Linked DNA regions of Homo sapiens: regions 2 and 3 are each linked to region 1. The links come from fine-mapping of genetic effects on plasma protein levels. A gene starts in region 1. Each other region holds a variant in brackets. All regions are shown on one strand. Distances are from middle to middle. Region 1 holds the start of APOH (apolipoprotein H). Region 2 has its middle 18 kb from the start of APOH. Region 3 has its middle 18 kb from the start of PRKCA.

Evidence for each region. A credible set is the group of variants that fine-mapping cannot tell apart. PIP is the posterior inclusion probability: the model's chance that the variant is causal. Protein levels are from antibody-based Olink assays in UK Biobank. Linkage for the fine-mapping came from a reference panel and not from the study's own genotypes, which makes the PIPs less certain.
Region 2: its variant is the best candidate, but not a certain one, in a credible set for the plasma level of the APOH protein (UK Biobank, PIP 0.89).
Region 3: its variant is the best candidate, but not a certain one, in a credible set for the plasma level of the APOH protein (UK Biobank, PIP 0.83).

Annotation. Positions count from the first base shown.
Region 1 is chr17:66,228,409-66,230,908 of GRCh38, reverse strand. APOH (apolipoprotein H) reads left to right here and starts at 1,494. Exons shown (of 8, transcript NM_000042.3): 1 at 1,494-1,593. The coding sequence starts at 1,530.
Region 2 is chr17:66,246,392-66,249,240 of GRCh38, reverse strand. No RefSeq gene overlaps it. Among named protein-coding and RNA genes, the nearest start is that of APOH, 18 kb to the right of the region's middle. The variant G/A (reference allele first, on the strand shown) is at 1,479.
Region 3 is chr17:66,283,157-66,286,005 of GRCh38, reverse strand. No RefSeq gene overlaps it. Among named protein-coding and RNA genes, the nearest start is that of PRKCA, 18 kb to the left of the region's middle. The variant G/A (reference allele first, on the strand shown) is at 1,621.

The sequences.
Region 1 (2,500 bases):
ACGACTTGGCTCCTCCTGACTTCATTAGTTTTCTTTCTTCTTCATTCATCAAGGAGATTCTCCACAATAAAGCGGAACCTGGGAATTATCCAGAGAACAAGAATCTCCTTCCCCTTAGAAGGACAAATAGGGAAGGACCACTGTTATTTCACATTAGTGGCAGCACACTCTTCTTATCATGGAACACAATGTTCATTAGGATCGTAATTTAAGAATCATCTGCCTGACAGATGGAGATTTCTCAAGCTGATGTGTCTCAGGGAATTTTAGACCTCTGGATATAAACCAAGATCACCCAAATGAGAGCAAGCGGAGGTTATTTATTCAGAGCTTGCTATAGGAAGGGAGGCAGCCATTAACAGTTGTGTTTGGCAGAGACTCAAAGTCAAAGTCAGACAGAGGAGTGGGAAAGCTTTATAATAGAAAAAAGGAAAGGCTTCAGGTGTGCTCCAACGGATTGTTGGTATGGGGAGGATGGAAGGAAACTAACTAGAAGTGAGGTGTCCATGTGATTGGTTAGAGAAATATGTTTGGATTTCTCTGGTTGGCCTTAAGTTGGGCCAACTGCTATAGAGGTTGTAGGTTTGGCTTTCTAGACCTGTTGCTACAGATGTGTGGGTCAGAGTTCTGTTTTCACATATGGCCTGGCTATTGTCCATTTATATATCCTTTTTTTTTTTTTTAGAGCAAATGATGTAGAAGAGAACTAGGGAATCAAAGACAACCCCCCTTCCGAACCCTCTCAAGCAACAACATCAGCACTGGCCCATTATCTTATCCTACTCAAGTTTTTTTTTCTTCTTCGAGTCCCAAGTTGTTAATTTCAAATCAATTTTCAAATTCCTGAAACAGATCTAGAAACCTGTCTAGACAGATCCAAGACATATTAAGAATGGATGAGGAGGACTTTGTATTGATCTGACGTAAGAGAAGATAGAGAATTCAAGGATAGCTCTAAGGTCCTAACTGGAGCTATAGGAGCTTGCAAGAGAGGATGTTGAGCTCAGTTTGTAGGGAATTAAAGTTGTAAGTGCCTCCTGGAAGACATTCTTTGTAATTATACATCTGAAAACTGGAACATCATTTTAGAGAGGTGGAGACTGAGAACAGAGAGTAGGTGTTTGTCCAAAGTTTATATGCCAAGGCTGTGAGTGAAACAGGAGCTTCGATCTTTTGGTGTTCCATCTACAACATACACAAAACAAAAGATGGAGAATGAGAAGTCCAGGCAACCCCGGAAACAACAAGTTTCTGTCAAAAGCAATAATGAACTGTTTTGTGCCATTAACAAAAACGTTATGAAGACAGAAACCATCTCCCAAAGATTTCATAACAGAGCCACATAAGTGGAAAGTAAATGATTAAAGAATGTGGGTCTCAGAGTTCCATTCAAATCATGATACTTTATCTTCTATTTACAAAGATAAAAGTACACCAGAAAATGGTTAATGTTTAAGCGCTTTCATATTTGGCTCTGTCTTTTTAGCAGACGAAAACCACTTTGGTAGTGCCAGTGTGACTCATCCACAATGATTTCTCCAGTGCTCATCTTGTTCTCGAGTTTTCTCTGCCATGTTGCTATTGCAGGACGGAGTAAGTACTTTTTGCTTTTGAAAAAATAATTAATATATCCAACCCCTTCGTATATGTCAGGGATCAATAATGATAAGTAGGCCGGGCGTGCTTGCTCACATCTGTAATCTCAGCACTTTGGGAGGCCAAGGCAGGTGGATCACCTGAGGTCAGGAGTTCGAGACCAGTCTGGCCAACATGGTGAAACCCCGTCTTTATGAAAAATACAAAAATTAGCTGGGCATCATGGCCGAGGTGGGCGAATCAGTTGAGGTCAGGAATTCGAGCCCAGCCTGGGCAACATAGTGAAACCCTGTCTTTACTAAAAACACAAAAATTAGCCGGGCGTGATGGCAGGCGCCTGTAATCCCAGCCACTCGGGAGGCTGAGGCAGGAGAATTGCTTGAACCTGGGAGGCAGAGGTTGCAGTGAGCCGAGGTCCCCCCATTGCACTCCAGTCTGGGCAACAAGAGCAAAACTCAGTCAACAATAATAATAATAAGAAGAAGAATAATTAAATTCTTTTTTTTTTTTTTTGAGACAGAGTCTCGCTCTGTCGCCAGGCTGAAGTGCAGTGGTGCGATCTCGGCTCACTGCAAGCTCCGCCTCCTGGGTTCACTCCATTCTCCTGCTTCAGCTTCCCGAGTAGCTGGGACCACAGGCGCCCGCCACCACACCCGGCTAATTTTTTGTATTTTTAGTAGAGACGGGGTTTCACCGTGTTAGCCAGGTTGGTCTCTATCTCCTGACCTCGTGATCCACCCGCCTCAGCCTCCCAAAGTGCTGGGATTACAGGTGTGAGCAACTGCGCCCAGCTGATAACTAAATTCTCTTTAGAGTGGATGCTGGAGGGACTGGATTGATACTGATTCTTTAATATTGCCATGTGTAAAGCTCCTCTGTAAGATACGTAGCCAATTTAAGCCTC
Region 2 (2,849 bases), 18 kb before region 1:
ATCTGATTAAATTAGTTCATTCATATTACAATATGAATGAGGCTTAACTTTTCCAGGACATATTTATATTTGTATTTTCTTTTTTTCTTTCTTTCTTTTTTTTTTTTTGAGACGGAGTCTTACTCTTTTGCCCAGGCTGGAGTGCAGTGGCATGATCTCTGCTCACTGCAACCTCTGCCTCCCGGTTTCAAGCTGATTCTCCTGCCTCAGCCTCCCTCAGCCTCCCGAGTAGCTGGGATTACCGGCGTCCACCACCACACCCAGCTAATTTTTGTATTTTTAGTAGAGATGGGGTTTTACCATCTTGGCCAGGCTGGTCTTGGACTCTTGATCTTGTGATCCACCTGCCTCAGCCTCCCAAAGTGCTGGGATTACAGGCATGAGCCACTACACCTGGCCTTTTTTTTTTTTAAGGTAGGGTCTTGCTCTGTCACCCAGGCTGGAGTATGGTGGCACTATCACAGCTCACTGCATCCTTGAACTGGGATCATGCCATTCTCTCACCTCAGCCTCCTGGTTAGTTGGGACCACAGGTGCATGCCATCATGCCTGGCTAATTTTTTTCTTTTGCAGTTTTTTCGTGGAGATGGAGGTTTGCCATGTTGCCCAGGCTGTATCTGTATTTTCCAAAGAGAATTTTATTAGCGGAAGTGAACTTCCAGTTGGCAAGTGTTGCCAGGGAAATGGCTCTGAGCAACGACATTACTTCCCTCATTGCTTCCCTTATCAGTCAGTTAATAGCTATTTCTGGAGCACTGACTGTGTCAGGCACTGGTCTACGTGCTGGGGATGCAGCCAGTAAAGACAGAGTCAGCCCTTGAGAGGCATGTGTTGTGTGGGACATTTATTGGCCATAATAAGGATGGCACCATGTCTGAGAGGCTGAAAAAGAGACCCAGAGCCAGTGAGCGAGACATAGGGTTTATTGAGGACTTCTACATGGAGTGGTCCAGGGGCAGTGAGCTGGACAGGAGAACCGTGACCTGCCACCACACCCAGCTAATTTTTGTATTTTTTATAGAGACGGGGTTTTGCCATGTTGCCCAGGCTAGTCTTGAACTCCTGAGCTCAAGTGGTCCATCAGCCTCAGCCTCAGCCTCCTAAAGTGCTAGGATGACAGGTGTGAGCCATCGCGCCTGGCCTGCCCTGCTCATTTTTCTACATAGCACTTACCTTAACCCTTCATCTATTTGTTTATTATTTATTTATTTTTGTCTTTCTTCTCCCACTATGATGTCAGCAACTTCAGGGTAGAGATTTTGCCTGCTGTGTTCACAACTGTGCCAGCACATGGCTGACCTTGAAGAACAGTCCTGGAGTAAATGAATACTTGGATGAAAAGTAGGAAAAGGGAGAAAGCTGCTGATACAGGTCAGCAGAGCCAGATCACACAGGGCCTAGTAGACCAGGATGGGGAGTTTGCATTTTGTTCTAATTTTTTTTTTTTTTTTTTTTTGGAGACAGAGTCTCACTCTGTC[G/A]CCCAGGCTGGGGTGCAATGGCGTGATCTCGGCTCACTGCAAGCTCCGCCTCCCAGGTTCACACCATTCTCTTGCCTCAGCCTCCTGAGCAGCTGGGACTACAGGCGCTTACCACCACGCACAGCTAATTTTTTGTATTTTTTTTAGTAGAGACGGGGTTTCACCATGTTAGCCAGGATGGTCTCGATCTCCTGACTTCGTGATCTGCCTGCCTTGGCCTCCCAAAGTGTTGGGATTACAGGCGTGGGCCACCATGCCTGGCCTTTGTTCTAATTTTAATGTGAAGCCATGGAGCATCTAAGCAGAAGAGTGACCCAATATGTTATTTTAGGATGATCACTCAGTTGAACTTCCAGGGCCTAGAACTTGATGTTATGATTGACAGGATGCACATCACTTTTTGAAGAAACCCACTTCATTGCTGAAAGTCTTTAATTATTAAACATTAGGGCAGGCGCCGTGGCTCACACCTGTAATCCCAGCACTTTGGAAGGCCGAGACAGGCAGATTACTTGAGCTCAGAAGTTCAAGATCAGCCTGGGCAACATGGTGAAATCCGTCTTTACAAAAAAATACAAAAATTAGCCAGGCGTGGTGGCAAGCACCTATAGTCCCAACTACTTGGGGTGGGGGCTGAGGCAGGAGGATCGTTTGAACCCCAGAAGTCGAGGCTGCAGTGAACTGAGATTGTGCCACTGTACTCCAGCCTGGAGGACAAAGTGAGACCCTGTCTCGAAAAAAAAAAGAAAAAGAAAAAAATCCATTTTTTCACACATTGAATCTTTCTTTCTTCTCTAAAACTGGTACCCATTAACCCAAAGTCTGTGCTCAGAATCCACTGAAAACAAGTTTAAAACTCCTTCCACATAATGGTTTTTGAAATATTTGGAGACTTTCTTAGTCTTCTCCAGGGTAGGCTTTCATGATACTTTGACTTATTATCCTGTTACATGACTTTCAGAGTTTTCATTGTCCTTCAGAGAGGTCTGGCTTTTCAGTATGCTCCTGAAGAACTGCCAAACTTTGGTCTGACCAACACAGTGCAAAGCAGTAATTGTGTTCAAGACTGGAGTTTTCTGTGTCTGAACACAGCCTAATTCAATTACACTTCAGCTGTGTCACTAGCAGGTCAGGCTAAACTTGTGGTTGATGGAAACATCTGGAACTTCTTCAAGCTCATGCTGCTTCCTCCTCCACTTCACCTGCATGCTGAGATTTGCAGTGATCTTGTGAAATGTATCCTGTGGTTTCCGGCTGAAGTGGTAAGGTTTTTGAGATCAACTCTCTCTGCGTTCTCTCAGTTGCGTAACATCTGAAAATTTGTAGTTTTGTTCTTATACTTTTTTTTTTTTTTTTTGAGATGGAGTCCTG
Region 3 (2,849 bases), 55 kb before region 1:
TTTAAACTTTTAAAAGAAAACTCAAGGGCATGTTAAAAATAAAATAAAATACAAACACAAATATTAGAGAAATGTTTCTCTCCCTAGTGCTCCCACTTCTCCAATCCCACAGAGATAACTTCTATTTTTTTTTTTTTTTTTTTGAGATGGAGTTTCGCTCTTGTCATCCAGGCTGGAGTGCAATGGCACTATCTTGGCTCACTGCAACCTCTGCCTCTTGGGTTCAAGCAATCCTCTTGCCTCAGCCTCCCAAGTAGCAGGGATTACAGGTGCCCACCACCATGCCCAGCTAATTTTTGTATTTTTAGTAGAGACAGGGTTTCACCATGTTGGTCAGGCTGGTCTCGAACTCCTGACCTCAGGTGATCCACCTGCCTCAGCCTCCTAAAGTGCTGGGATTACAGGCGTGAACCACCATGCCCAGCCCCCATAGAGATAACTTCTGTATAATACTTGCCTTTGAAAGAAAAATATTCATATTGCACATGGTATCTTGATCCAGGTTTTTAAAAAATGAAAGACAAAATGCTTCAGATAGCCTCTTACTGCTCATCACAGATCTTTTTTAAAAATGACCAACAAATTGGCTCCTCCAGACATTTGGCATTAACTAGTTAACTGGCACCCATAGCTTAGGGCATCTTTGTCTAACCACATCAAAGAACGTCTTTAAATGTTTACGCAGCCTTGGAAGTGATCAGTACATGTCTGTGGATCAAATAGGTTGTATTTGGATCCCTAAAATGCTATTTCATGGAAAAATAATAAGTAAGCATGCAGCCATCACTTTTGGCCTCCTCTGCCACATAAAATATGCTTTAACATAGATTTCCACCAAAAAAAGCCTCAAGGAACAATCAGAAATTTAACCTGTGCTAAAGAGAGAGACAGAGAGAGAGAGAGAGAGAGAGAGAGAGAGAGAGAGACTGGTTATTGGAAAGGCTCTGAGTGGATTCATTCCAGATGTTTTTATTACTGCTGATTATCCAAGTGAGGACCAAAACCTTCTTTTACTTTTTATTTATTTACTTATTTTTGAGACAGGGTCTCATTCTGTCACCCAGGCTGGGATGTAGTGGTGTGATCACAGCTCACTATAGTCTCAACCACTGAGGGCTCAGATGATCTCCCATCTCAGCCTCCCAAGTATCTGGGACTACAGGTGTGCACCACCACATCCATCTTATTTTTGTATTATTTTGTAGAGATGAGGTCTCACTATGTTGCCCAGGCTGGTCTCGAACTCCTGGGCTTGGGTGATCTTCCTGCCTCTGCCTCCCAAAATTACAGGTGTGAGCCACCATGCCCTGCCCTCTTTTACTTTTTTTTTTTCTTCTTCTTCTTTTGAGACAGAGTTTCACTCTTGTTGCCCAGGCTGGAGTGCAATGGCGCGATCTTGGCTCACGGCAAACTCTGCCTCCCCGGTTCAAGTGATTCTCCTGCCTCAGCCTCCTGAGTAGCTGGGATTACAGGCATATATCACCACACCCAGCTAATTTTGTATTTTTGGTAGAGATGGGGTTTCTCCATGTTGGTCAGTCTGGTCTTGAACTCCTGACCCCAGGTGATCCGCCTGCCTCGGCCTCCCAAAGTGCTGGGATTACAGGTGTGAGCCGCCGC[G/A]CCCGGCCCCCTTTTACTTTTCATGAAGAAGATTGGAGCAATAACAGTAGAAAATGTGCAGCTATATTGGAAACTCTATCAATGTCAAGTTGTTATGAAAGTTGCTACTCTTTTGTCCATTGTCTGAGAGATTCTGTAAACAGAAGCCTGTGGTCTCTGCCTCCTGCTCACCATCACTTTGCTCACAGGCTGAGGCTCCCGGAGGGGCTGGCTGAGCAGCTGGAGTCTTGTGTGTCTCCTTAGGCTAACAAAAAACCTAGACAGACAGCAAAACACTTGCATTCTTCAAGCTTTTCCTTGGGAGGATTTCTACTAGCAGATCAGTGGCACCTGATAGGAAGATTCATAAGCAAACAGGAATTCCATGTGTGTTATGTGAATTTGTACTCAAGGATGCAATTGAGGGCCGGGTGTGGTGACTCTCTCCTGTAATCCCAGCACTTTGGGAGGCTGAGGCGGGTGGATCACTTGAGGTCAGGATTTTGAGACCAGCGGGGCCAACATGGTGAAACCCCATCTCTATTAAAAATACAAAAATTAGCCACGTGTGGTGGCAGGCACCTGCAGTCCCAGCTGCTTGGGAGACTGAAGCAGGAGAATTGCTTGAACCTGGAAGGTGGGAGGTTGCAGTGAGCCGAGATTGCATCACTTCATTCTAGCCTGGGCAACAAAGACTCCAAAGAGGAACGTAATTGACATTCTGTAGCTCCTTGATAGTGCTTCATGGACCCTCAAAAAATAAAGGAGAGAATAGTGTTTTAGAGTCAAACAGATCTAGATGTAGTTCCCAGCGCCAATCCATTTGACTGTGTGACCTGGATCATTTAACCTCCCTGAACCTCCATTTCCTCTTCTGTAAAGTGGGAATAATAATGAACATCCCTCCAAAAGCTGCTGGAAGAACTAAGTGAGATGGAGTCCATGAGGCCCAAAGCCCAGTACCTGGCACATAGTAGATGCTCAATAAATCTAAGTTCCCTATCTAAGACATATATATTGGGGATGGAAGAGAGAAAGGATCACAAGGGGAGAAAAAAAGGAAGACAAGGAAGGAGAAAGCCAGGGCCAGCAGGAGTAAGAATCAGTAAAACGTATTTTCTCATGTGACTCTCCTTGTGTTTGTTTGCACTCCTCTTTCTTGAGTGTGTGCTTTTCTCTTTGCAATAAATCTCTGTAATTTCATTATTTTCTGACCCACCTTTGAATGCCTTCTTGTGATGATGTCAAGA